2 separate regions of the Homo sapiens genome follow, and region 1 is linked to region 2. Evidence: fine-mapped expression QTL. Tissue or cell type: monocytes after R848. Region 2 holds a variant in brackets; the other region holds the start of a gene. All regions are shown on one strand. Distances are from middle to middle.

Region 1 (2,703 bases), 39 kb after region 2:
TTAACTTCTCTAAGGGTTTGCTTTTCAAAGGAAGAGTACCCCAGGAGACTCCTCTCAGCCTCAGGGCATCCACCTGCTCCCTTGAGAGGCTACACTCCAACTTCAGGCTGTCCTGTCTCCCATTCCCAGATATGCGAAGTTTCATTCCAGGCCAGGAGCTGAAATTTACTAGACATTGTAGCATACACAGCCACAGTGGATATCTTGATTTATCCCCAGACAGTACTGAAACCCAGAACCAGGGAAAAAACTGAAGGGTGGCTGAGGACACATTACCTTATAAAGTTTCCAAAGGGAAACCCTGACCCAAAAATATTCTGATAAGGTTTCTGTGGCTAGAGGCAATAAAAGGAAAGGAGGCACAGAACATTTTTTACAATACAGTGTCAGGGGATTATTCTTTGCTTTCTTCTCTTGGGAAATCTTTACAAACAGAAAACAAATCTTTTTTAAAATGCCAGCCAATGCTTTGTCAAAAAATGATTAATTAAAATATGGTACCTAAAATGTACACTAAAGTGTACATTAAAGGACAAATAGTTGATAATGTGAATTAGGGAGGGGAAATTGGCATTTGGGAATGTCAGAAGGAACTGGAAATTTAGTATTTTACTGCAAGCCAGAGTTAGGCTGGAGGAATGGGAAATGGGGAGAAGTCTTGAGACCCTGCTTGAGACAGAAGTGAAAAATGCAGAGGAAAATCAGTGCCCTGTGGAGTGTGAAAATAATTAAGTGGCAGGCAATTAGACTGAGGTGGCTCCAGTCCTAGGGTTGCTACTTGCAAAAAAATCTAACTCGAATGATTTTTTTCTAAAGTATTACATTGGGGGAAAATAAAATTCAGGCTTAACCAACTATAAACTGCCAATTAACCTCTCATTACATGACCAGGGAATTTCCACCTTGATCGTACAAATTAAGAAACTACATAACTTTACCTAACCAATTATTGAATTTGCTTTCCTTTATCATGCACTTTATAAAAGTGTTTTCTTCAAGCCCCTTCCATAAACCACAAACTACAAAACATAGCTTGGTGCTCTACAATTCTTGAATTACTCTTTAATTAAATTCTTTAATATTTCTGCGGAGACTTCCACAAATTTTTAATAGAAAAAAAGGGGGACTGGGAACCCCGCAGACCAAAGCTCTTCCCATTCATGAACTCTGCATCCTGAGTCAGTATTCTCCCCTGACGACCGTCCAGTGGTCCCTGCACAATCGGGGAGAGCTGCGGCAGTGGGGGCAGAGCTGCCCACAGAGGACTCCAGAACAAGGCACAGTCACTGCGCAGGGAGGAGACAGGATGCCCGGGGTCCGAGCTGTCAGCCCGGCCGCCATCCTATGGCTGAAGGGGACTGAGGGCCGAGCTGCGCCAAGGAGAACTCGGGGCCGCGGATTTTGGAGCCAGCTGCGGGGAGGCCAGAGTCCCGCCACAGCCACTTCCCACCAGTTCCAACCAGCCCCGCCCCCTCTCTCGGGATGTCGGACCCGGCACTCTCACCATTTCTAGGCTTCCAGTGGGTCCTGGCGTCTTAGCTGTGGATCTCCCAATACCTGCAGGTAACGAGGCCACAGAAGCTGGGCCTCTAGGAGCAGAAGACACAGAGCAGTGAAGACTACACCAGAAGCTCCGGCTGCCGCCAGAGACAAAGGCCCCACCAAACCCGGAAGCCGTCCTGTCTGCTCCAGCTGAGTGCCTGATTGGACGGGTCCCAGCCCAGCGTCCCTGATTGGATAATGTTTAGGGCCCCACCCTCTCAGGCCTTGATTGACAGAAGACGTGCTCAGATGCTGGGCTGAATGTAGAGTGAACCCTAAGCCTTTTCAGGCAGAGCTTCCTCCCTGAGCTGACCCAGGCCCTCCCCAGACGGCATTTGCCTTGTAAGGCAACCGTCTGAAATAAAATGTGAGCCATGTGTGAATTCTAAATTTTCTAGTAGTTAAGAAGAAAGAAGAAACAGGTGAAATTCATTCTAACCATTTAATAACCCAATATATCCAAAATATTATTTTAGTATAGGAGCAATATGTAATTATTAATGTAGTGTATATATTCTTGGAACTAAATCTTTAAATCTAACCCTGTATTTTACCTTTCTAGCACATCGCAGTTCAGACCAGCCATATTCCAGCTATCCTGTAGCCACACATGGCCAATAGCCACCACATTGAAGTGCAGCTCTGATTTCATACTTCCTCTCTCTCTCTCCTCAAACCTCCTGTGCTTCCTTCCCTCCCTCCCTTCTGCTAAGCTGATGCTCACTTCTCCAACGTTACTAGAAGCCCTCAGAGTGAATGTTCTTATCTTCCCACCATCCACCGACTGTGTCTCTGTTCCTTCCACTGTCACTGTGTAATAATTGCCCTTCTGCGGCTGGGCATGGTGGCTCATGCCTGTAATCCCAGCACTTTGGGAGGCTGAGGTGGGAGGACTGCTTGAAGCCAGGAGCTTGAGACCAGCCTGGGCAACATAGTGAGACTCCATCTCTACAAAAAAGTTTAAAAATTAGCCATGGGCTGGGTACGGTGGCTCACGCCTGTAATCTCAGCACTTTGGGAGGCTGAGGTGGGCGGATCACCTGAGGTCAGGAGTTCAAGACCAGCCTGGCCAACATGGTGAAACCCTGTCTCTATAAAAATACAAAAATTAGCTGGGCCTGGTGGCGTGCACCTGTAATTCCAGCTACTTGGGAGGCTGAG
Region 2 (3,009 bases):
GTGTTAGTCTCAAATTGTTTTCAGAGGCCAGTGTCCACAAGAGTACTTTCTAGGTGTTCATATAGGATTTTCATAGCTTGAAACTTCATGTTCAGTTTTTAATCTATCTTGAGTTACATTTTTTATATGCTGAGAGGTAAGAGTTGTTTTTTTCTTCTGCATGTGACTAACCATATAGTCCATTATTTATCAGTACCATTTATCAGATGGAAAGTTATTTCCCCTTTATTTCTGTTGACTTTGTCAAAAATAAGTTGGTTGTAGGAGTGTAGCTTTATTTCAAGTCTCTCTCTTCTGTTCCATTGGTCTACATGTTTATTTTTGTCCGAGAACCATGCTATATTGGTTACTGCCACTTGTAGTACAGTTTGAAGTCAGGTAAAGTGAGGCTTCCAGGTTTATTCATTTTGTTTAAAGATGCCTTGGCTATTTGGGCTCTTTTATTCAATATGAATTTAAAACCATTGTTTTTAATTCTACAAAAAATTGCATTGATAGTTTGATAGAAAGAGCATTTAATTTACAAGTTGCTTTAGGCATCATGGACATTTTAATTATATTGATTCTTCAAATCTATGAGCATGGAATGTTTTCCATTTGTATGTGTTGTCCCTGATATCTTTCAGCAGTGTTTTGTAGTTCTTTTTTTTTTTTTTTTTTTTTTATTGATCATTCTTGGGTGTTTCTCGCAGAGGGGGATTTGGCAGGGTCATAGGACAATAGTGGAGGGAAGGTCAGCAGATAAGTGAACAAAGGTCTCTGGTTTTCCTAGGCAGAGGACCCTGCGGCCTTCCGCAGTGTTTGTGTCCCTGGGTACTTGAGATTAGGGAGTGGTGATGACTCTTAACGAGCATGCTGCCTTCAAACATCTGTTTAACAAAGCACATCTTGCACCACCCTTAATCCATTCAACCCTGAGTGGACACAGCACATGTTTCAGAGAGCACAGGGTTGGGGGTAAGGTCACAGATCAACAGGATCCCAAGGCAGAAGAATTTTTCTTAGTACAGAACAAAATGAAAAGTCTCCCATGTCTACCTCTTTCTACACAGACACGGCAACCATCCGATTTCTCAATCTTTTCCCCACCTTTCCCCCCTTTCTATTCCACAAAACCACCATTGTCATCATGGCCCGTTCTCAATGAGCTGTTGAGTACACCTCCCAGACAGGGTGGTGGCCAGGCAGAGGGGCTCCTCACTTCCCAGTAGGGGCGGCCGGGCAGAGGCGCCCCTCACCTCCCGGACGGGACGGGGCGCCTGGCCGGGCGGGGGGCTGACCCCCCTGCCTCCCTCCCGGACGGGGCGGCTGACCGGGC[T/G]GGGGGCTGACCTCCCCGCCTCCCTCCTGGATGGGGCGGCTGGCCGGGTGGGGGCTGACCCCCCCCCCACCTCCTTCCCGGACGGGGCGGCTGGCCGGGCAGAGGGGCTCCTCTCTTCCCAGTAGGGGCGGCTGGGCAGAGGCGCCCCTCACCTCCCGGACGGGGCGTCTGGCTGGGCGGGGGGCTGACCCCCCCACCTCCCTCCCGGACAGGGCGGCTGGCCGGGCGGGGGGCTGACCCCCCCACCTCCTTCCCGGACGGGGCGGCTGGCTGGGCAGAGGGGCTCCTCTCTTCCCAGTAGGGGCGGCTGGGCAGAGGCGCCCCTCACCTCCCGGACGGGGCGTCTGGCTGGGCGGGGGGCTGACCCCCCCACCTCCCTCCCGGACGGGGCGGCTGGCCGGGCGGGGGGCTGACCTCCCCACCTCCCTCCCGGACGGGGTGGCTGGCCGGGCAGAGGGGCTCCTCACTTCCCAGTAGGGGCATCCGGGCAGAGGCGCCCCTCACCTCCCGGACGGGGCGGCTGGCCGGGCGGGGGCTGACCCCCCCACCTCACCTCCTGGACGGGGCGGCTGGCCAGGCGGGGGGCTGACCCCCCCACCTCCCTCCCGGACGGGCGGCTGGCCGGGCGGGGGGATGACCCCCCCCACCTCCCTCCCGGATGGGACGGCTGGCCGGGCGGGGGGCTGACCCCCACCTCCCTCCCAGACGGGGTGGCTGCCGGGCGGAGACGCTCCTCACTTCCCAGACGGAGTGGCTGCCGGGCGGAGGGGCTCCTCACTTCTCAGACGGGGCGGTTGCCAGGCAGAGGGTCTCCTCACTTCTCAGATGGGGCGGCCGGGCAGAGACGCTCCTCACATCCCACACGGGGCAGCAGGGCAGAGGCGCTCCCCACATCTCAGACGATGGGCGGCCTGGCAGAGACGCTCCTCACTTCCTAGATGGGATGGCGGCCGGGCAGAGACGCTCCTCACTTTCCAGACTGGGCAGCCAGGCAGAGAGGCTCCTCACATCCCAGACGATGGGCGGCCAGGCAGAGACGCTCCTCACTTCCCAGACGGGGTGGCGGCCGGGCAGAGGCTGCAATCTTGGCACTTTGGGGGGCCAAGGCAGGCAGCTGGGAGGTGGAGGTTGTAGCGAGCCGAGATCACGCCACTGCACTCCAGCCTGGTCACCATTGAGCACTGAGTGAACGCGACTCCGTCTGCCATCCTGGCACCTTGGGAGGCCGAGGCTGGCGGATCACTCGCGGTTTGGAGCTGGAGACCAGCCCGGCCAACACAGCGAAACCCTGTCTCCACCAAAAAAATACGAAAACCAGTCAGGTGTGGCAGTGCGCGCCTGCAATCGCAGGCACTCGGCAGGCTGAGGCAGGAGAGTCAGGCAGGGAGGTTGCAGTGAGCCGAGATGGCAGCAGTACAGTCCAGCTTTGGCTCGGCATCAGAGGGAGACCGTGGAAAGAGAGGGAGAGGGAGGCCGTGGGGAGAGGGAGACCGTGGGGAGAGGGAGAGGGAGAGAGAATTACAGTTTTTAAAAAGTAGACTGTAGTTCTCCTTCTAAAGATATTTTACCTCCTTGAGTCAATCCATTCCTAGGTATATTATTTTTTGTTTGTGGCTATTTTAAATAGAGCTCTGTTCTTGATTTTGTTCTCTGCTTAAATGTTATTCAAGTGTTGAATGTTATTCAAGGTG

Which allele goes with the higher level. Positions count from the first base shown, and alleles are read on the strand shown. Sizes are in standard deviations (SD) of each study's normalised expression.
For the expression in monocytes after R848 of the gene that starts at base 1,651 in region 1, allele G in region 2 goes with a higher level than allele T (moderate effect, 0.58 SD a copy in Quach 2016).

The links. PIP is the estimated chance that this variant, and not a neighbour inherited with it, causes the effect.
Region 1: it holds the start of ERV3-1, and the variant in region 2 is fine-mapped to the expression of ERV3-1 in monocytes after R848 (Quach 2016, PIP 0.92).

What each region holds. Positions count from the first base shown.
Region 1 is chr7:65,005,037-65,007,739 of GRCh38, forward strand. It overlaps ERV3-1 (endogenous retrovirus group 3 member 1, envelope), which reads right to left and starts at 1,651. Exons shown (of 2, transcript NM_001007253.4): 1 at 1,505-1,651. ERV3-1-ZNF117 (ERV3-1-ZNF117 readthrough) reads right to left here and starts at 1,710. Exons shown (of 4, transcript NM_001348050.2): 1 at 1,505-1,710. RefSeq lists an enhancer at 1,582-1,641 and a silencer at 1,742-1,911.
Region 2 is chr7:64,966,289-64,969,297 of GRCh38, forward strand. No RefSeq gene overlaps it. Among named protein-coding and RNA genes, the nearest start is that of ZNF117, 23 kb to the right of the region's middle. RefSeq lists enhancers at 1,425-2,168, 2,169-2,912. The variant T/G (reference allele first, on the strand shown) is at 1,319.